2 separate regions of the Homo sapiens genome follow, and region 1 is linked to region 2. Evidence: fine-mapped expression QTL. A gene starts in region 2. The other region holds a variant in brackets. All regions are shown on one strand. Distances are from middle to middle.

What was found.
Region 1: its variant is fine-mapped to the expression of ACACB in whole blood (INTERVAL, PIP above 0.99).

The regions. Positions count from the first base shown.
Region 1 is chr12:109,154,374-109,164,587 of GRCh38, reverse strand. All of the region lies in intron 2 of ACACB (acetyl-CoA carboxylase beta), which reads right to left. Among named protein-coding and RNA genes, the nearest start is that of ACACB, 43 kb to the right of the region's middle. RefSeq lists a silencer at 9,934-10,093. The variant C/T (reference allele first, on the strand shown) is at 6,370.
Region 2 is chr12:109,111,034-109,123,918 of GRCh38, reverse strand. It overlaps ACACB (acetyl-CoA carboxylase beta), which reads right to left and starts at 7,332. Exons shown (of 53, transcript NM_001093.4): 1 at 7,215-7,332. It overlaps LOC105369974 (a long non-coding RNA gene), which reads left to right. Exons shown (of 3, transcript XR_945332.3): 3 at 5,135-5,265. RefSeq lists an enhancer at 12,540-12,885.

The DNA.
Region 1 (10,214 bases), 42 kb before region 2:
TTCTCCTGCCCTCACATTCAACCTTACCACTTGGCTGTGTGTGAAATGCTAGGAAGGGCCAGGCATGGTGGCTCATGCCTGTAATCCTAGCACTTTGGGAGGCTGAGGTGGGTAGATCACTTGAGGTCAGGAGTTTGAGACCAGCCCGGCCAATATGGTGAACCCCATCTCTACTAAAAATACAGAAGTTATCCAGACACAGAGTTGTGCACCTGTAATCCCAGCTACTTGGGAGACTGAGGCAGGAGAATTGCTTGAACCCAGAGAATGGAGGTTGCAGTAAGCCGAGATCGCGCCACTGGACTCCAGCCTGGGCGACAGAGTGAGACTCTATCTCAAACAAAAAGAAATTTCAGGAAGGAAAACCTTCTTCAAGTTTTAGAAGCCTTGTGCCATTGTGTTGTGGCTTCCAAGGCTGCTAGAACAAGAGTAATTCTGATCCTTGATCCTTTGTAGGTGACCTGTTTTTTCATATCCAGATGCTTATAGGAGCGTCCCTCTGTCCCCAGAACTCTATGATTTCACAGTGATGAGCTCAAGTATGTGTCTGCTTCCACCAATGAGGCTGCACATCTCTCAGGCCCTCTCAATCTGGAAACTTCCATCCTGGGAATTTGTCTTCAAATACTTCCTTGATGGGCTGAACATGGTGGCTTACGCCTGTGATCCCAGCACTTTTGGAAGCTGAAGTGGGAAGATCACTTAAGGTCAGGAGTTAGAGACCAGCTTGGCCAACATGGTGAAACCCCGTCTCTACTAAAAATACAAAAATTAGCCGGGCATGGTGGTGTGCATCTGTAATCCCAGCTACTTGAGAGGCTGAAGCAGGAGAATCACTTGAACCCAGGAGGCGGATGTTGTAGTGAGCCAAGATTGTGCCACTGCGCTCCAGCCTGGGCAATAGAGTGAGACTCCATCTCAAACAACAACAACAACAACAAGAAACAAATACTTCCTTGATGATGTCCTTGCCTCTTTTTTTCTCTATTTTTTCCCGAAGTCCTATTATCTGGATGTTGAAATTCCTACACTGGCCTACTGGTTTATGCATTTTTCCCCTCTCCTATTCTCTCTCTTCTTCTACTTGCTGGTTGATTTTTCTCAGCCTCATCTTCTAAACATTCAGTGGAGTTCTTCATTTCTGCTATCATGTTTTTGATGTCTACGAGCCTGTTTTTGGCCTACAAATGTTCCCTTTGTTATAGCATCCTCTTCCTATGAGTGCAACATCCTGTCTGACCTCAACGATGATATTAATGAGAGCTTTTTAAACTTCTCTTCTCCAGCGTGGTTTCTGTTTCTTCCAAGCTTCCTGTGTCTACTGGTTTGGACCTTGACTTACATATGAGAAACTGGACCTCAGGGCCGGGTGCAGTGGCTCACGCCTGTAATCCCAGCACTATGGGAGGCCGAGGCAGGTGAATCACCTGAGTTCAGGAGTTTGAGAGCAGCATGGACAACATGGTGAAACCCCATCTCTACTAAAAATACAAAAAATTAGCCGGGCTTGGTGGCGTGCACCTGTAATCCCCCCTACATGGGAGGCTGAGGCAGGAGAATCGCTTGAACCTGAGAGGCGGAGGTTGCAGTGAGCTGAGATTGTGCCATTACACTCCAGCCTGGGCAACAAGAGCAAAACTCCATCTCAAAAAAGAAAAAGAAAAAGAAACTGAACCCAAATGTCAGGGAAGCCTTGGTTCCAACCTTGTGACTATGAGTGAGAACAGAATTTCTGAGACTGTGGTGGACCTGGTTGACCCTGAGCTCAATGTAGGGTGAGGTAGGAGTGCGTTGGGGATCCCCTGAGTCAGTATCTTTGTGTCTTTCTCTCTCGCTGGCCAGATTCCCCAGGGAGAAGTTTTCCAGTCTTCTGCCTGGACAGTAAAGGTCAGCCTGGAGCCCCGGGGGGAACGGGGAAGTTCTAAGAATTCAGCACCTATTCAGACCCTTATCTTCCTATTTGGGATACAGGCCCCATGCCCTCAACTGTGCCTGTCGATCCCCTCTCCCAAGACCCTCTATATGTACCTTTGAACTGCTGCCTTCTGTTGGGGTCGAAGTGGACAGCCCCTGCCGCAGGAGACAGGGGAGGGGACCTGGGAGTCTTCCACCCTGTCCTTCTCATTTTGGTACCCTCCTTACCCCTCAGCTCCAGGGGCATCCCTTGCTGCCAGACACTATGCCTTTTGGGGGTTCTGTGGTACAGATGGCCAGGGGTCCCCAACTTTCCTCACTGCTCCATTAGGACTCAGCCTTAAGCCAGTGACCACTCATTCATCTGCTTTCTAGCTTCTAAAAGGTTAATGCTACGCTGGGCACGGTGGCTCACGCCTGTAATCCCAGCACTTTGGGAGGCGAAGATGGGCAGATAACTTGAGGGCAAGAGTTTGAGACCAGCCTGGCCAACATGATGAAACCCCATCCCAACTAAAAAAACACAAAAAGTAGCTGGGCATGGTGGCGCACGCCTGTAGTCTCAGCTACTGGGGAGGCTGAGGCACAAAAATCACTTGAACCCGGGAGGCAGAGGTTGCAGTGAGCTGAGATCACACCACTGCACTCCAGCCTGGGCAACAGAGTGAAACTCTACCTAAAAAAAAAAAAAAAGAGAACTTCATTTATTTACAAAAAAAGGTAGATGCAACCCAAGGGACATCATTTGTAGACAGACCCCTGATCTGGGGGAAAAAAATGCTAAAGTATTAAGAGCCGTTATCTCTTTGCTATATTTTAAAAAATGTTCTGCAATGATGTGTTATTTTCAATAAGAAAAAAGCTATTAATTTTGTAAGAGGAACACCCATGTATACATGTAGGTATACACACACACACACACCACACACACACATACACACAAAAGAATACTACTGAGCCATAAAAAATTATATATATATATACACCAAATTTTCTGTATCTAGTCATCTGTTGGTGGACACTTAGGTTGATTCCATATCTTTGCTACTGTGAATAGTGCTGTGATAACTATACAAGTACAGGTGTCTTTTGATATAATTATTTCTTTATTTTATTTTATTTTATTTTTCTGAGACTGCGTCTCACTCTGTCGCCCAGGCTGGAGAGCAGTGGCATAATCTCGGCTCTCTGCAACCTCCACCTCCCAGGTTCAAGCAATTTTCCTCCCTCAGCCTCCCGAGCAACTAGGGTTACAGGTGCCCGCCACCATGTCCGGCTAAATTTTGTATTTTTAGTAGAGACGGGGTTTTACACGTTGGCCAGAGTGGTCTTGAACTCCTGACCTCAAGTGATCTGCCTGCCTCAGCCTCCCAAAGTGCTGGGATTACAGGCGTGAGACCCCACAACTGGACTCCTTGCTAATTTTATTTATTGTTTTCAACCAATCATGTTAAGATCCTCCCAATGAAAAGCGAATCTGACTGAGTGATTTCTTTTCCTTTGTGTACATACCCAGTAGTGGGATTGCTGGAGAGACTGGCAGATCTATTTTAGTTCCTTGAGAACTCTCCAAACTGTTTTCCACAGAGGTTGTACTAATCGACATTCCCACACACAGCCGCACCCCTCATTCTGTCCACGACCTTCCCTGACTGGCTGGCTTGATGGTTCAGCTTCAGAAAGTCTGAGACATCCCATTTCTACACACACAAACATTAAAACTCTAGCAATTTGACCTAAAGCACAACAAAGAAAAACTTCATTTGTGGCCTAGGGGGCAAAAAAACCATTCTTGGCCACCATGTTGATTTCGAAACTGGTGACAGAGCCCCTCCATCAGGCAGGCCACAAGCCCATTACCGCAGGCTAGGCAAGCGAACACACAAAGCTGCCGGACTGGCCTTGTTTCAGGCCCAATCTCCAGGCAAGTGGCTATTTTAATTCTTTTTGATAAAGCTGGAAGCCAACCAACATTGGCTCTAGAGAGCTGACCTTCGGCCAGCATTTGCTTCCACTGAAGGAGGATCATCCTAAGTGCCATTGTCCAGTGAGAAGCCCTGTCCTTATACAGCACGGCAAGGGTGAGAGCTGAAATGTTTCAAGGTGACTTTGGAAATGACTTCAGGTACAATCAACAGCAGAGGTGTCAGCCAAACACCAAATGCAGTCAGCTGCCGGAGCACAAGACCAGGCAGAATAGTATCAGGAATGGAGGAAATAAACATTCTCGGCTGCCCACTATGGACTGGGCACAGGGGGCCTCTCAGTGAATCTCCACAGCCCTGTATGGAGGAGTCTGTCATCTCCAGGTTCACGATGAGGAAACCGAGGTTCAGAGAGGACCATTTACCTCCAGTTTCACAGCTGGCAAGTGGCAGAGCCCCGTTTCAAATCCAACTCTAGCTGACCTCAGAATCTAACTTCTAGGCAGAAAGACAATCTGAGATAAATGGAAGCCCCTCTATTAACTGGACTTTTAAAACATGCATTACACATATGGCCTCTTATATTCCTCTCAAATAAGAGACAAACATGTATAATGCTGAGGTTTTTTGTTTGGTTGGTTGGTTTTTTTTTTTTTTTTGAGACAGAGTCTAGCTCTGTCACCCAGGCTGGAGTGAAGTGGCACCATCTCGGCTCACTGCAACCTCTGCCTCCCAGATTCAAGCGATTCTCCTGTCTCAGCCTCCCGAGTAGCTGGGACTATAGGTGCCTGCCACCATGCCTGGCTAATTTTTGTATTTTTAGTAGAAATGGGGTTTCACTATGTTGGCCAGGCTGGTCTCGAACTCCTGACCTCAGGTGATCTGCCCACCTTGGCCTCCCAAAGTGCTGGGATTACAGGGGTGAGCCACCGCGCCCAGCCCTGAGTGCTTAACTGGGGGAAATTTTGCTCCCCGGGGAGCAATACCTGGAGACATCTTTGATTGTCACAACTTGGGGGATGCGCTACTGGCATCTAGTGGGTGGAGACCAGGGATGCTGCTCAACACCCTGCAATGCACAGGACAGCCCCACAAAGAACTGGACAGCCCCAAGTGTCAACAGAGCCGCAGTTTAGAAACTCTGGTAGACTGCGGCCATCCTCCTAGGCTTTGAAGCCAGAATCTACCGCTTATAACCTGTGTAATCCTGGGAAAGTTACTTCAATACTCCCTGCCTCAGTTTCCTCACATGATGGAATTAACAGTTTATCCCTGGACCTAGCCAAAGTAAACAGCTTGCAACACTTTAGCTACCATGTACGTCTGCAGGATAGCATTACAGGAGCCCAGGCTGGGCCATTAGGCTAGGGCCCCGGCATTAATCAGACCTTCAATTTCTTCCCTCTCTTTTCTTCTATAAAATAGAGATGGTAACGGCTACCCGCACTGCTAAGAGCTGATTCTGAGCCAGGCAATTCTGTAATTACAACTACTTCCAAACAAGAAAGCAAGAAAGAACACTGTGTAGCCCAGTAAAGGTTGATATCGTTCAAACAGCACAAAACCACGCTCTCCAGAAATGGACCCTTGGAAATTTCTCAAGCCACCTGCCCCATCAGTACCCCCTGGGATGACTACCTTGGCTAGGCCAGGGGTGAGTGGGCAAACTAGGACCCATGGGTCAAATCCACTCGGCCACCTGTTTTTGTATCTCCCACAGGCTAAGAGCGGTTTTAACTTTTTAGATTGTTTTTTGTTTTGTTTCGTTTGTTTCGAAAGGGAGTCTTGCTCTGTCGCCCAGGCTGGAGTGCAGCGGTGTGATCTCAGCTCACTGCTACCTCCACCTCTCAGGTTCAAGTGATTCTCCTGCCTCAGCCTCCCGAGTAGCTGGGACTACAGATGTGTGCTACCACGCTCTGCTAATTTTTGTATTTTTATTAGAGACAGGGTTTTACCATGTTGGCCAGGCTGGTCTTGAACTCCTGACCTCAGGGCGATCTGCCCACCTTGGCCTCCCAAAGTGCTGGGACCACAAGTGTGAGCCACCGCACCCAGCCTTATTTGTTTTTTATAGAGACAGGGTCTCCCTCTGTTGCCAGGACTACAGTGCAGTGGTGCAAAAATAGTTCACTGCAGCCTCAAACTCCTGGGCTCAAGTGATCCTCCCACCTCAGCCTCCTGAGTAGCTGGGACTGCAGGTGTGCACCACCATGCCCAACTAATTGGTTTATTTTTGTAGAGACGGGGTTTCATCATGTTGCCCAGACTGGTCTCAAACTCCTCAAGCAACCCTCCTGTCTTGGTCTTCTAAAGTGCTGGGACTATAGACATAAGCCACCATGCCCAGCCAACATTTTTAAGTCATCGAAAAAAAAAAAAAAATCAAAAGAATCCTGTTTTGTGACACATAAAAATTATATGAACTTTGAATTTCCCCATCTATAAATAATGTCTGATTGAAACACAGCCAGGCCTGTTCAATTACATAACTATGGCTTCTGGTGCAGGAAACAGCAGAGTTGAGTAGTTA[C/T]AACAGAGACCACATGGCCACAAAGCCAAAAATATTTACTGTCTGGCCGTTTATAATAGCAGTCTGCTGACCCCAAGCTAGGCACGAGTTTTCAACCCTGACATGAAAAACTTTATAAGATTCTGATGTCGGGGTCCCATCAGCATGTCTAGGGGGTAGAGGTGGGGTCCCCGGCATCCAGATTTTTCAAAAATCTCCCCACCAGGAAATTCTAATGTGTAGCCAAGAGTGAAAACCCCTGATAGGTCTACAGCCAATATTTGCATGCAGGCAGCTGGCCTTTCAGAGCAGAATTGCATGGCAGTGAAATGGGACTCATTAAAAAACAACTTCTGCCTCCTCATCCCCAACTTTATTTCAAGCCCTTCTGCACTCTGATCCACAATCATTTCTCTACTCTCTGAACTGTGACCCCGTTCTCATGCCATGAAAAATCAGTCATCATTTGCGACCTCACCTTCTCAGGAGTTCTGGCTTCTTAGATGGCCCGAGCCTTCAGCACAAGATCCCAAATGCCTCCCAACTCCAGAGGGCTCTTTCATAACCGAACTCTGTCTTTACTTATTAGTTTTCATCAATGTTTGTGCTGACCCAGGGCAGTACTCAAGACCAGCGACTTCCACACAGAGTCTCAACGGACCAAGAAAGAGCCGGGCATGGTGGCTCATGCCTGTAATCCCAGCACTTTGGGAAGCTGAGTTGTGAGGATTGCTTAGCTCAAGAGTTCAAGACCAGCCTGGGAAACATGGTGAAACCCTGTCTCTCTAAAAAATACAAAAATTAGCTGGGTGTGGTGGCGCATGCCTGTGGTCCCACTACTTGGAAGGCTGAGGTGAGAGGACTGCTTGAGCCCGGAGGCTGAGGCTGTAATGAGCCATGATCATGCCACTGTCTGGGCAACAGAGCAAGACCCTGTCTGTAATAATAATAATAATAATAATAATAACAACTCTAGAAAGGCCTATGAGGGCTAGTCCCTTGGACAGATGTGGAAACTGAGGTTCCAAGGCTTGATGGTACCTGCTCCAGAAGATCACACAGCTTGGTGGCAAAGTTAGATCGTCCAAATCCATCTTTTTAGCCACTCTAAGCTAAGAGAGGAACAATGTAGTCCCCCAACAAAGTATGTCCATATTATTATAAATAGGGGGACCCCACGTCCTGGACTTGCTGGGACAATTCCAAATTTGTGTGAGGTTTTTCTTTTTTTCCATTAAAGTGGTTTGTGAAATGGGTACAACACTCTCCACTTAGTGCCCCCACAGTGGTATTTTGAAGATGGCATGAGACCACACCTACAAAGCACTTGGCCTGGCATACTGAAAGCACCCCATGAGTGGTAGTGGCTATTACTGTTGCACCCATCAGCCTCGAATTGGAGTTACTGAGAAGACATCTGCCTTCCACAATGGAACCGAAGTTCCTGGAGGGCGGAGGTCACGGTTTCCAACCATTTTTGCGACCCTTCCTGCTACCAGTTGCAGGCCTTATGCATGGGAGGTGTGCATGAATGTTTATGGACCAGGTAAACATATCCTAAGAAAATAAAGGATGGAGGCAGAGATTCAGCTACAGGGGTATTCCTCACTGTGCTGTTGATAATAGCCCCCCCCCAAAAAAAAAAAAAAAAACAGAGAGAAACAGCCTGAATATCCGCTACTTATAGGGGATTACTTATACTTTTTTTTTAAGAGACAGGGTCTTGCTCTGTTGCCCAGGCTGGAGTGCAATAGCACAACCATTGCTCACTACAGCCTCGATCTCCCAGGCTCAAGCAATCCTCTTCCCTTAGTCTTTCCAGTAGCTGAAACTCCAGGCATGCATCACCATCCTCAGCTAATTTTTTTTTAAGTAGAGATGGGGGTCTCACTATGTTGCCCAAGCTGGTCTCGAACTCCCGAGTTCAAGCAGTTCTCCTGCCTTGGCCTCCCAAAGCGCTAGGATTACAGGCATGAGCCACCACACCTGGGCACATTTTTTTTCAGAGATGGGGTCTTGCTATGTTGCCCAGGCTAGAGTGCAGTGGCTGTTCACAGGAACGATCATAGCACACTGCAGCCTCCAACTCCTGGGCAAAAGCATCCTCCCTCCTCAGCCTCCTGAGTATTTGGGACTACAGGCTTGCACCACCCTGCCTGGCGAGGATTATTCATACATTTTAAGGTGCACCCATTTAAAGGAACACTATGAATCCAGTAAAAGCATGTTGTAGGCAGGGATTGGCAAACATTGTCTGTCAAGGGTCAGGCAGTAAGTACTTTAGATCTGGTCAGTCTCTGTCCCACCACTCAAATCCTCCAGTGAGGCACAAAAGCAGCCATGAACTAGGCATAAATCATAAATCGATGAGCAGGCTGCAGTCCAATAAAACTTTTTTCGTAGACACTGAAATTTGAATTTCATGTAATTTTCACGTGTCACAAAACAATCTTCTTTTGATTTTTTTTTCAATCACTTAAACATGAAAAAACCATTCTCTGCTTGCAGGCCATCCCAAAACAGGCAGTGGGTCATAGTTTGCCAAGCCCAGTGGTAGAAAAATACTTAATGTTGAATGAAAAAGTGAGTTACAGAACGTTCTGCATGATTCAAGTTTATAAATTAAAACATATCTGCACCGGAAAAAAAAAAAAGCTGAAGAATATACAACTGTTAACAAACATCACAGGGGTGGAATTATGGGTGATTTTTGTTCCTCTTTTTTGCTTATCTATAATTTTCTGAATTGTCAACAACAGACACACCATCAATTTGGTAATTCTTTTTAAGTGCAATAAAATGAGGACAAAAAAGGAAAGAAACAAAACCAAGTAGGTAGAGCTACAAAGCACTCAGGCACTGAGATGCCTACGCTCATCTGCTCAGAAAATGACCCTCAATGAGAGCCTGCTCAAGTTCACGTCGATTTGCCCAGGCTTCAGCTTCAAAAGAGACCTGCCTTCCACAACCATCAGCTTCTGGAGGCGAAGGAGAGAAAGCGGGGAAGGCGTGCCCCTGCGCAAGGGCTGATCTTTAGGCACCTGTGTGCTCCGAAGCGACCTCCTCCAAGCAACGTCACCCCCAACGTCCAGCCTCCTTCCTCCCCTCCCGCCAAGGCCAGCTAGAGTTTCCAAGGCGGGCATCATCTCCCCAGCAGCCAACTCAAGCCCGTGTTTCTTTGGATGGGGGTGGGGGTAAAGGGGGCGGTGCTAAGAGGACACACAGCTTGACTTCAAGGGGAAGGAAGACTGCGTAAGTTTGTAAAAGATCATGGTCATTACAATTGCAGGCTTACTTACTTTACTTCGCGATCAGGGAAACAGATCTTGCACTTGGCAGGACTCATGTTGACCACCCCGCAGGCCAATCCCACCGGGCTCCCGCAGGGGTGCAGAGCATGCACCCCTTAACCGCCTGAAGCCGACCCGAGGCCCGGGACCCAGCAGGACAGCCAGGTCGCGACCCGGAGGCCGAGATGCAGTCCTAGAGCGCCGCGGGCGGGGTTCTGCTGCAGCCGGCGGGCGCCCAACTTCGCGCTGCGCTTGCTCCATCCCGAAATGCACCCTGCGCGCCAGAGTCCCGGGCCATCGCGCCCGCCTAGGCCCCACCCAGGCCCCGCCCCCACACCGACCCCGCCCCAGGAGGGCCCCGCCTTCCGGACGGAGCCCCGCCCCCGGGCCGGCCTACCTCCGACCCGCCGCTGAGCTTCGGCAGCCGAAATGAGCTGCGGAGATATATATTTTTAAAGCCTCTCTTCTGCTTTGCTCCCCAATATGGGACACCCCTACATATTGGCAGCAATTGATATGCTTGAATACACACACGATAGGGAAGCGGTGGAAAATATGGGAAATTTAAAATGTGAG
Region 2 (12,885 bases):
CCAGGAGTTCAAGACCAGCCCGAGCAACATGGCAAACTCTGTTACCTAAAAAATAAAAATTAAAAAAAAAAAATTAGCCAGGCGTGGTGGTGTGTCCCTGTAGTCCCAGCTACTCTGGAGGCTGAGATGGGAGCCCAGGGTAGTAGAGGCTGCAAGTGAGCCGAGATTGTGCCACTGCACTCCAGCCTGGGCGACAGAGTGAGACCCTGTCTCTTTTCTTTTTTTTGAGACAGGGTCTCACTCTGTCACCCAGGCTGGAGTGTAGTGGCACAATCTTGGCTCAATGCAACCTCTGCCTCCCAGGTTCAAAAGATTCTCCTGCCTCAGCCTCCTGAGTAGTTGGGATTACAGGTGCATGCCACCAGGCCTGGCTAATTTTTGTATTTTTTGTAGAGATGGGCGTTTTTCCATGTTGGCCAGGCTGGTCTTAAACTCCTGGCCTCAAGTGATCTGCCCGCCTCGGCCTCCCAAAGTGCTGGAATTACAGATGTGAGCCACCACGCTCGGCCTAAGACCCTGTCTCTTAAAACAAACAAATAAACAAACAAACAAAAAAAACTCTGGAGCTCTAATTAATGACATGCATGTTGAAGTATTCAAGGATAAAGACACTGATATCTGCAATTTACAGGTGACAAATACAGAAAAATGGTAATGGCAGAATCTAATCAGGGGTATATGGGCACCCACTGTAAAATTCTTTCAACTTGTATGTTTAAAAATTTTTTTTTTTTTTTTGAGATGGAGTCTCGCTCTGTCGCCCAGGCTGGAGTGCAGTGGTGCGATCTCGGCTCACTGCAAGCTCCGCCTCCTGGGTTCATGCCATTCTCCTGCCTCAACCTCCTGAGTAGCTGGGACTACAGGCACCTGCCACCACGCCCGGCTAATTTTTTGTATTTTTAGTAGAGACGGGGTTTCACCATGTTAGCCAGGATGGTCTCGATCTCCTGACCTCGTGATCCGCCCACTTTGGCCCCCAAAGTGCTGGGATTACAGGCATGAGCCACTGCACCCAGCTTAAATTTTTTTATAATAAAATGTTGGGGGAATAATATAGGGAAAATGGGTATAGGAAGATGAAACTAGAAGGGCAGAAAGGCAATGGTTATTGAAGCTGGCTGATGAATGCATTGGGGGACCACTGTGCTATTTACTCTGCTTCTGAAGGTGTTAAAAAAAAACAGGTCAACTTTTTTTCCTATACCAAAAAGTTAAAAAGTTCATAAAATACAATGCAAGTACCCACCAGCTGACTGAAACCTGAATATTAATAGCTAATACTTATGAGTACTAATTTGTGCTAGGCTCTGTATTCAGCATCTTTTTTTTTTTTTTTTTTTTTTTTTGAGACAATGTCTGACTCTGGCGCCTAGGCTGGAGTGCAGTGGCACAATCATAGCTCATTGCAGCCTTGAATTCCTGGGCTCAAGCAATCCCCCTCCTCGGCCTCCCAAAGCACTGGGATTACAGGCATGTGCCACCACGCCCAGCGAAACTTTTTATATTTTATACAGACAGGGACTCAAGCAATCCTCCCGCCTTGGCCTCCCAAAGCACTGGGATTACAGGCATGAACCACCATACCTGGCCTATATGAAGCATTTTATAATCATTGTCTCATTCCACCTTGTGAGACCAGTAGCAGGGGAAGCCTCGTTTTATTGATGAGGAAGTTCTGGGTTCGAGAAGTTGAAGTGACGCAAAGTCACTCACCCGGGTAGTAAGCAGATAAACTGAATTTCACCTTTTCAATGATTGCTCACTGCACCCCTTTCCATGGTCTACATGGCCCTGGCAAACCGGCCTCTGCCACACTGACCCCTCTACGTTCCTCTGCACATGCTGCCTGGAATGTTCTGGAATGTTCTTCCCTTCCCTGCCCCCACTTCTGTCCTTTGCATGGTTATCTCTTGCTCTTTTTCTGATGGTTGGCTTCAGTGTCCCCACCTCAAACCCACCCTGATACTCAGTGGTCTTATTCTGTAGGACACGTGCCATTCATCACGTGCTGACCTGACTCTCTGCATTCACCAATGAGTTTATGCCTCTTCTCCACTGGAATAGAAGCTTCCTAAGGGCAAGGAGTGGCTCTGTCTTGCTCTGGGCTCTCCAGCACAGTGCCTAGCACACAGAAGCGTCAGGGTCAGTGAACACTTGCTGGAGGCCTGCACCCAGCTCAGGTGTGTCTGTGCCACCCCCACCCCTGCTGCCTACCTGGGGAATCCTCCTGCTCCACTGAGTCCTTGGGGCTGGGAGTGTCCAGGTGAGGCCCTGGGCACAGGCATCTGCACGGCTGTTGAACCCCTGCTGGCTGCTCCCTCATACTGCTGTATCAGGGGCCACCAGAGAGATGCCATGGAACACCATGCTCTTGCTCTATGCCCCACAGTTCCCTGATCTCTTCCTCCTGGCACTCATCATAGGTTGTAGTTATGTGGGTCATTATTACACATCTACCAGTGTCCCCCACTAGAAGGTAAGATCTGTGAGAGCAGGCAAGGCTTAAAACCCAGAGGGGCACAGATTTATCATCAATTTCTGACTTCATCTCCCCCGACCCCTTCCCCAGTCTATTTGCAACTCTGAAAATAGGGTTCTTTTGTAACTCCAGTATACACTAGGAGGCATATAGTAGTCCCTCAAGGAACCCATAAAAGCATGTTGAATAAGAATGAAAGCTGGCAGGTGTGGTCTCTCATGCCTGTAATCCCAGCACTTTGGGAGGCCTAGGCGGGCAGATCACTTGAGGTCAGGAGTTCGAGACCAGCCTGGCCAACATGGTGAAACCCTGTTTCTACTAAAAATACAAAAATTAGCCGAGTGTGGTGATATGCACCTGTGGTCCCAGCTACTTGGGAGGCTGAGGCAGGAGAATCGCTTGAACCTGGGAGGTGGAGGTTGCAGTTAGCTGAGATCACGCCACTGCACCCCAGCCTGGGCAACAGAGCAAGACTATGTCTCAAAAAAATAAAAAAGAAAGCTGATGTTTGTTGAGCACCTCCTACACACTGAGTCTTATGCTGTGCACTTTGTGTGTGTTATCTCTTTAAATGTTCACAAAAATGATAAGATGAGGCACAGAGAGAAAGTCTGTTGTTCAGAGTCACATCAGTGAGTGGCAGAGCTGGGCCCCGGGCTGGGCCCTCCAGCTCCAGGTGTGCACGTGTGTGGCACACGTGTGTGGGTGTGTTTTCTTCATCCCTTCCCCTACGCCCACCATTGCCTCACTCCAAGGCTGAGCTAGTGCAACAGCCTGTTAGCAGATCTCACTGAATCAATTCTACTTTCTCCCTGTTCAAATTCATCCAGAACCCTGGGAGACAGTGCTCTATTTACACACACACACATACACACACACATGCATGCATACACACATGCACACACACACCCCTTGCCCCCTGCTCAAGAGCTCGAGCCTGTGAACCTCATCCACTCCATGGTCCTGCCTCCCAGGATCCTGCAAGGAGATGAGGAAGGCATGGAATGAAACGGTTCCATGTTTTGCAAGAGGTGGCTATGAATACCAATCCTGAAAGATGGTCCCCACCCTTGCCAAAAAATAACATTTCTAGGGCCAAATCCCAATGTCACATCTTGGAGAGTCCCACTGCATTTAGCATAGTAAAGGCTCTGAGAAGTCCTGCTGTAAACCACAGGCAGCCTGGTGTTTCCCAAACTGATTGGCCCTGGAGGCCTGTTTCCACCTTGCATGGGCAGCTCTCCATATCAGAAGAGCTCCAAAAGCCTCACTTTGTGGGGAGTATGGAAATAAAAGACCGAAGCCTTCCTTATAACACAGCAGAGAAAGCCTTCTAGGTCAGTTGGGAGGGGCATGTCCAACAACTGATTATTCTATAATAGCTAGTATTGAAGTCTGCAGCTGATTTGCTTCTAAATAGAAAGGAGAGTGTGTTCAAGTTGTCCTCTGATATCACCTTCACTCATTATTTAATTTAAAAATATGGAGCTTAATTAGTTCAACAGGAGTGGTGGAAAATCCTTTAATCCTTTTTTTTTTTCTTCTGAGATGGAGTCTCGCTCTGTCGCCCAGGCTAGAGTGCAGTGGCGCGATCTCAGCTTGCTGCAACGTCTGGTTCCCAGTTTCAAGCGATTCTCCTGCCTCAGCCTCCCAGGTAGCTGGGATTACAGGCGCACCACCATAACTGGCTAATTTTTGTATTTTTAGTAGAGACAGGGTTTTGCCATGTTGGTCAGGCTGGCCTTGAACTCCTGACCTCAAGTGATCTGCCTGCCTCAGCCTCCCAAAGTGCTGGGATTATAGGCGTGAGCCACCCAGCCCTGTCTCAAAATCATTTTTTTTTTTTTTTTGAGACAGAGTCTTGCTCTGTTGCCCAGGCTGGAGTGCGGTGGCACCATCTCGGTTCACGGCAAGCTCCACCTCCTGTGTTCAAGTGATTCTCCTACCTCAGCCTCCCAAGTCGCTGGGTTTACAGGCACTAGCCACCACACCCAGCTAATTTTTGTATTTTTAGTAGAGAAAGGGTTTCACCATGTTGGCCAGGTTGGTCTCAAACTCCTGACCTCAAGTGATCTAGCTCCTCAGCCTCCCAAAGTGCTGGGATTACAGGCGTGAGCCACTGTGTCTGGCCTGAAGAGACCTTTTCTATGTGTAGTTGTTTTCTGGGGCCCCAGCAAGGGTCAGAGTGGCTAAGGTATGAGCCCAGAGAGCAGGACTTCTGGAGTACAGCAGACTTGGGTGGAGGCTTTGCCATTTGTTATCTGATTGGCCTGAGCCCATCATGGAAATTCTCTGAACCTTGGTTTCCTGGCCTGTGGAATGGAATAAATAAAATCTCCTTCCTAGGATTGTCCTCAAAATTATGTGAGATCCCATAATTATTATGGCATACCTGGGGTATGCCAACTACCCAATAATCAATACCTTGGTTTCTCTGCTGTGCCCAGCCTGGATTCTCTGATACAAGGATCCCTGGATTCCTGGAATAAATGAACACGGTCTATCTTCCTAGAAAATCACCTTACTCTACGGTCATAAATTTACTATTATCACTGCAAACAGAGAGATCTATTAGGATAGGATGTGAAATGTGCATACATTTTTCCGATCAAATGCAATATTTCTAACTCTGTTTCCTGGTTTCCCTGGGTACAGGTGAACTCTACTTTGAAGTAACAAGTCACTGAATCACAAATTCAGAGGAAGCATGAGAACAAGGTATTCCAGGCCGGGTGCAGTGGCTCATGCCCGTAATCCCAGCACTTTGGGAGGCCAAGGTGAGCAGATCACTTGAGGTCAGGAGTTCGAGACCAGCCTGGCCAACATGGCAAAACCCCATCTCTACTAAAAATACAAAAATTAGCTGGGCGTGGTAGTGCTTGCCTGCAATCCCAGCTACTCGGGAGACTGAGACTGAGGAATTGCTTGAACCTGGGAGGCAGGGGTTGCAGTGAGCTGAGATTGTGCCATCGCACTCCAGCCTGGGTGACAGGACGAGACTCTGTCTCAAAAAAAAAAAAAAAAAAAGAACAAGGTCAAAGTTTCTACTGGGATAAGACTTCAAGGAAACCTCCATTTCAAAAGATTAAAATGTTTATTTCCCCATGAAGACTGGGTATCTCATGTAATGTAATACTCAAATTTCTGTCTCAGACCTAAAGGTGTTGAAAGTATGAGCGAGTTTACACAACACCTGAGCAGGAGCAAATAAAACTCTTAAGAGCTTCTGAAAGAAAGTTACAGATTAGAGATATTTTCATCTCTAAATCACATGAATTAGGATTGGCTGGGTCTTTCCACTTAAAACTTGGAGAAGTCATAAAAAGAAATCTTGTAAAGAACTCCATGTCACTATTAGCAGAAACATGCAATTTATAAAATGATATCTTTGGCCAGGCGCGGTGGCTCATGCCTGTAATCCCAGCACTCTGGGAGGCCGAGGCGGGCGGATCACTTGAGGTCAGGAGATCGAGACCATCCTGGCTAACACAGTGAAACCCTGTCTCTACTAAAAATACAAAAAAAATTAGCCGGGCGTGGTAGTGGGTGCCTGTAGTCCCAGCTACTTGGGAGGCTGAGGCAGGAGAATGGCGTGAACCCAGGAGGCGGAGCTTGCAGTGAGCACTCCATCTCAAATAATAATGATAATAATAATATCTTCACCTTTCAGTTTTTAAATTGCAAGTCCCATGTCCCGGGAATTCCCCGGTCCTGGGCAAAGTGGGATGGTTGGTCACCCAACCTATATGGATGCCCATTGATATTAAAAAATAAAAGTAATCACAATAGACATGAGGGAGAGAGTTGTGTACAGTGTGAGTGTACAGAATAAAAGGTCTGGGGGGTTTATACCAAAATGTGCACAGTGGCTACCTGGAGGAGGAGGGTTAGACAGGAATAACAGCAAGGAGACTTTTGCACGGTGCTGAGTGACTTTTTAACTTGCATATTATTTTGGAATGCATTTTTTCAACATTGAAAGAAAGTCATGTCTTCCTAGAAATATAGGATATAGGACCACTACAAACGCTTTACTCTTAGTCTCCTTTTTTTCTTTTTCTTTTCTTTTTTTTTTTTTTTGAGACAGAGTCTTGCTCTGTCAGTCAGGCTGGAATGCAGTGGCGCAATTTTAGCTCACTGCAACCCCCACCTCCTGGGTTCAAGCGATTCTCCTGCCTCAGCCTCCCAAGTAGCTGGGATTACAGGTGCCCATCACCACATCTGGCTAATTTTTATGTGTTTAGTACAGATGGGGTTTCGCCATGTTGGCCAGGCTGGTCTCGAACTCCTGACCTCAAGTGATCCACCTGCCTCTGCCTCCCAAGGTGCTGGGTGGCATGAGCCACCGTGCCCAGCCTTAGTCTGCTTTAAAAAAAAAAAAAAAAAAAAAAAGAACAACCATTTGAGGAAACAGAAACAGAATACTATTCCTTAAGACAGTAGCTTTGGAGGCAAAAAACAGAATTGTTTATAAAACGTTGTGGAACTTATATGGGAGCATGTCCAGGGATCCACACCACCATTTATAGAAGCAAAGAAAGGCCCTTCTCTTTCATCTGCGTTACATTTCGAGCTCTTCTGATTAGCTTCCTTCAAACATGACGGGAGTCGTTTTTCCCCGGGGACCCCAAGTGCATGCCTTCAGACAGGGTCTGCTCTCACTATACATTGGGTTCGAATTTACCTGGACGTTGGCAGAATGGTCCGGACCCCGGGGAGGGGCGAGCTGACTTACCACTTTATTCCTGCCGCTTTTCTCTTGCCATGTCCTCCCCACCGTGCATTCAGGGTTACATTTTCCAGGTTCCTTGTTTGCTGAGGGCCTGAATCTAAGCCTGCTAGCTGCTTACTCTGGGGACTGCAAATGTCACTTTTAGATTAATCAGCCCCTGCTGTTTAAAAATATCCCTGGAGCACTTAACCTTCAAAGCAGCAACAACCCGGGGCAAAGATGAGAAAGATCCCACGTCAAACCACTTGTGCAGCCCTGGCTACTCCTGGGAGAGTTCTGCTATCTGCCTTTTAATCCCATAACTCGCTTTATTTCATAATTCTTAGCTGTTGAAGCCATGAGGCATCTAAAGTCCATGTTGTCGTAAGCAGTAGGCAGAAAGTCATCTGGGCCCTCCTGTGACATGCTGAAAATTAACTGCCTACAGGTGTTGGTCATTTGAGAAACAAGCCCCCATTGAAAACCGTGAATGGGAAGGTGATCGCTATCAGGTCACCTGGCTTCTCTCCCCTGAAAAGATTTGGCGAAACCCTCTCAAATCACGCCACTTAATGGAATGTTTCCAATTTCTTGTGACTTGGGGATAAAAGAAAAAAACAGCTCCATTGCCACATTCTCATTCAGGGTTGACTGGCTCTTGCTAGGGTTGAGCACAGAAGAGGAAATTCAGCACACGCTGCAGTTACATAGTGTTCTGCAACGTGGGGAGGGCTGGCATGTGGGACAAAGGTCGCCTCCAAGGCCCAGCTGGAGAAGCCCAGCCAACTAGGCAGCAGGAAAGTGGAGACCACATAGGAGCACATTGTGCTCAGGCAACAGGGAAGGTGGAACCCACTTCCTGCCAACAATGATGGCCTTACTAAACAGCAAGTGGAGAAACTGGCGAGAGCGCTGAGCACGGGATCTGTGCAAAATGGTTTAAATGGAAATTGCTGCTGGGGCTGGTGCAGCCTGTTCACAGCTACTTTGTTTCTGGGCTTATTTTGCAATAAGGAACAGTCATTGAATATTGGACTTCTTGGGATTTTCTCCACTGGACTTGGAAGCATGTGCTCTGGAAACCTCAGCATTATCAGCTGTAACCCCACAGCACCAGGTACATGTTACAGGAACCGGGGTGAAGGAATGCAGGTCAAATGCCTGCACAATGCCCGGCCCGAGTCATATGTTCTCTAGCCACAGTAGCCCTTGTGATGGCTCTTAGTCTATTTATTAAGACAATAAAAGAGGTGACTCTCAAACAAACCTATGTTTCCAGGGAGAGCCATCTGTGATTCAAGGACATTTTTATAAAATTCCATTGAAAAAAATTCTTAGGCTTCTAACTTCATGAAAAAAAAATTCTTTCCCAGTGATTCCAAATAATCATGATCTAGGCAGGGTGTTGACAGTGGCAGGACTATTAGGCTTTGAAATCAAGCTGATGTGGGTTTGAATCCTCCCTCCATTAGCCATGACTTTGAGCAAATGGCTGAGCTTCAGTGTCCTCATCAACTACTTCACCATATGGGTGAGAAAATGAAATGATTTATATTGAGTTTCTGGCACAGGGGCTTGCTCATGACAAGCACTTAATATCTTTCTAATGAAATTCATTACTTGCAAAAAGACTAGACATACCCACACATACAGGTGAAGAACTCTGCAGTGATTCAGTTCTCCCTAGACACTATCTCTTTAAGACACAGGTATTTTCCAGAATATAATTGGAAGGCTTGAAACCAAAGTTATTCATAAACTCTTTCCATCAAACACAAGAACGGTAATAGAAATATATTTCTTCAAACAGCTGTTAGTTTCAGAAAGTCACAGGTATCAAGTTACATTTTTTGTTTTGTTTTGTTTTGTTTTAGAAATAGGATCTTGCTCTGTTGCCCAGGCTGGATGGAGTGCAGTGGCATGATCATAGCTCACTGCAGCCTCGAACTCCTGGGCTCAAATGATCCTCCTGCCTCAGCTTCCCAAGTAGCTAGAACTACAGGCACACACCACCCCTGGCTAATTAAAAAAAAAAAAATTTTTTTTTTTTAAAGACAAGGTCTCATTATGTTGCCCAAGTTGGTCTTGAACTCCTGGCCTAAAGCGATCTTCTTGCCTTGCCTCCTAAAGCACTGGGATTACAGGTATGAGCCACTGTACCTGGCCCAAAAAAAATTATTAAGTGACCACATGGTCTAACAAAACAAGGCACCTGGAAAGAAATCACCAGTCCTGCTGCAAACCGGACCCTCTGTGAGAATTCACATGCCTTCCCCCACCAATTAAATCAGAATTTCCAGGGATGGGGTCTGGCTTTGCATGTTTTAGCTTCTCTAGGCTGGAGGAGCACTAGCTTCTTGTTGGAAGGCTCCCTACCTTCCTCTCCCACACCCTCACCCCAAACATCATTAAGAGAGACAAAAGAACATGCTATATACACAACTAACAAGCAGAGAACATAAATTATTGATCTCCTGGTCTGCTCCGCTCACCAATATTTATATTTCCAAGCATATTTCAAAAACTTAAAAACTGGTTCCCTAGCCTGGGCAACTTAGCAAGACCCCATTTCTATTAAAAACTTAGCCAGGTATGGTGGTGCATACCAGTGGTCCCAGCTGCTCAGGAGGCTGAGGCAGGAGGATCACCTGAACCCAGGAAGTTGAGGCTGCAGTGAGCCATGACTGAGTCACTGTACTCCATCTTAAGAAACAGAGTGAGACTCTATCGCAAAAAAAAGAAAAAAAAATTGGTTCCCATTGACTTAAACTACAAAGGAACTTCCTGTTGTCAGACCCAAATTACAGTGTCAGAAGGACTCTAAACAAGGAGGCCATCTCCAGCAGAGGAATGTTCTAGCTTTCCTCAGCTTGAGTCAGCACAAGTCAGCATGTGAGGTCTTTTCAAAGTAACCCAGAGCACCTCCCTGCAACCTGTTTTTCCTTGCAAATCTTGAAGGTTTGGCAAGGATGAAAAGCCAACACCACACGCATACGCCAAAAAGTTTGCTTCTCCACCAAACATACTTGCGAAGACTTTTATATGAGAAGCAAACTGAAGCAGAAAGTGAATTTGAACAGAGATGTATTATCTAATAATGCAAGCATACTAGCAACATGCTAAAGTCTATCTTTAAAAAATGCAAACAATTTATAGTCCCTGACCTTCCCCTGCTGGATGTAGATCAAAAGCAGGCAGTGACTTTCACACAATTAATTATTTTATAACTGGACGTTTCCAGTACAACATTTGCTAATAACTGACTTCCTTGTGTTACCAATTCCAAAAGCTGTCAGAGATCTCCCTAACTCACCTGAAAAGGGAGGAAACAGGAATCATTAGGCCAGGTTCTCAGAAGCCTCCCAAACCTTGCCACGTGGAACCATCCAGCTCCACATCCAGCATGTGGGTCCTGCCTTTGCAGAGGCAGGCTCCTCAGTGTTGAATGCTCTTGTTCCTCTTTGTGGCCTGGAAAGTTCAATATCCACTCAGACATTCTCTCCACTGGGAAATGTCTTCTTTCCTGGGCTGACCCAGCCGTTGCTGCCTTTTTGTTCCCACCGCACTGACAGTGAGTACACACAGGGGTCTGCAGACTGTGGTTCCAGATGCCTGTTTTCCAATAGCTCCCAAGCTAGGAGTGGTTTTTACATTTGTTAAATGCTTAGGAAAAAAAAAGATTTCGTGACACATGAAAATCATATTAAAATCTAATTTCAGTGTCCATAAATAATAAAGTTTTATTGGAACACAGCCTCGCCCGTTCCTGTACGTTTTGCCCACGGCTGCTTTCTCTGCAGTGAGTTGTTGAGCAGTTCCCACGGAGAACGGGTAACTGCAAACCCTCAAATATTTACCACCTGACCCTTCACAGAAAGTTTGCCAACCGCTGACCTAAAAGGCTAAGACTGCCTTTTATGCATCTTTGCATACTGAGTGCAGGAATATAGCAGACTTGACACATGAAAAAAGCAACTACCACATAGCTAAGAGTTCATCAAAATGAGTTGCCTGGTTGGTTTTTTTTTTTTTTTTTTTTTGAGACGGAGTTTTGCTCTTATGCTCTTGTTGCCCAGTCTGGAGTGCAATGGTGCGATCGCCCGGGTTCAAGTGATTCTCCTGCCTCAGCCTCCCAAGTAGCTGGGATTACAGGCATGTGCCACCACGCCTGGCTAATTTTGTATTTTTAGTGGAGACAGGGTTTCTCCATGCTGGTCAGGCTGGTCTTGAACTCCCGACCTCAGGTGATCCACCCACCTCGGCCACCCAAAGTGCTGGGATTACAGGCGTGAGCCCCCACACCTGGCTGAGTTGCCTAGTTTCTAAAGAATCAGTAATTAAATTTTTGGAGGGTCATGGACCCAGAAGCTGCTCTGTGTACTGTTTAAAGTGTCACCACATGACTAAAGTTCAATATATACACATATATATTGAATATATATACATATATACATACATATATATTGAATATACATACATATATATTGAACTTATATACATATATATTCAATATACGTATATTGAACTTTTGTATATATTATATAGAAATGTATGTATATATATTTAAAATATACATTTTATATTTTAAAATATAAAATAATTGTGTTTTGAATTATTCCTGGAAACTTGGAGCTCACTGCTCCCCCTACCGGCAGTGCTGCACCGGGAGAGAGAGAAGTGTGAAAAGCTAACTGGTGTAAGCACAATTATCCCTTCACTTCTTCCTTGGCTAAGGGAGTCCACTGTTGTTTAGAGGAAGATCCCAAAGTTACCAGAGGGCAAATCGACCATGCATCCTCCTCCCGTGAAAGCCAGCTTGCTGACCACAAAATGTAGAATGATAAACCCTTCCCTACATAGATAAGGAAAGGAAGCAGTATTTTCAAGCAAACTCTGGTCTCCCTCCCTGCCCTTTTAAGAAATGCATTTGCTAGTCTCGAGGTTCTGGCTGGATGCATTCTTTCTTGCCCATTTAGTTAAAAGTTTCTCTACTAAAAGTACAAAAATTAGCCGGGCGTGGTAGTGCATGCTCGTAATCCCAGCTACTTGGGAGGCTGAGGTGGGAGGATTGCTTGACCCCTGGAGGCAGAGGTTGCAGTGAGCCGAGATCGCGCCACTGTACTTCAGCCTGAGCGACAGAGTGAGACTCGCTCAAAAAAAAAAAAAGAAAAAGAAAGAAAGAAAAAAAAACACAATTGTGGCTTCTTTCTTCGGACACTGGGGGATCCCACAGATCATCCTGACAGCCCCCACTACCTGAGCCTGGGCTGCGGGCCAGTGCGTCATCAGGGAGTCTTCCTGGAGCCCTGGCCTCACTTCCGAGTTCCAGATGTCTCGGAGTCTAGAAACACTGGCTGAGCGGGGGATGCAGGCGGCTCCCCTCCAACGTCACAGGGCTTGGCAGAACGTAGCCACGACGGGCACGCCATGTTCCCCGAAGAAATGCCTTCCTCAGGCCGTTAGTTACCCCTCTGGGGTCTCAGCTGGCAGCCGGTGCTCCACGGTGCTCGGAGTTGGGGCGCTGCTCCAGGCCGGGGGTTGGGCCCAGCGCTCACCGCAGCCAGGGGAGGGTTGGGCCGTTCCACTGAGCGGCAGGGCGGGGAGGAGGGGCAAGGGCGGCCCCTCCTGCAGACGGTGGTTGCTATGGGAACCCTGGGAGGCGCCAAGGGAAAGGGCAGCCCAAGGACGTCCATGG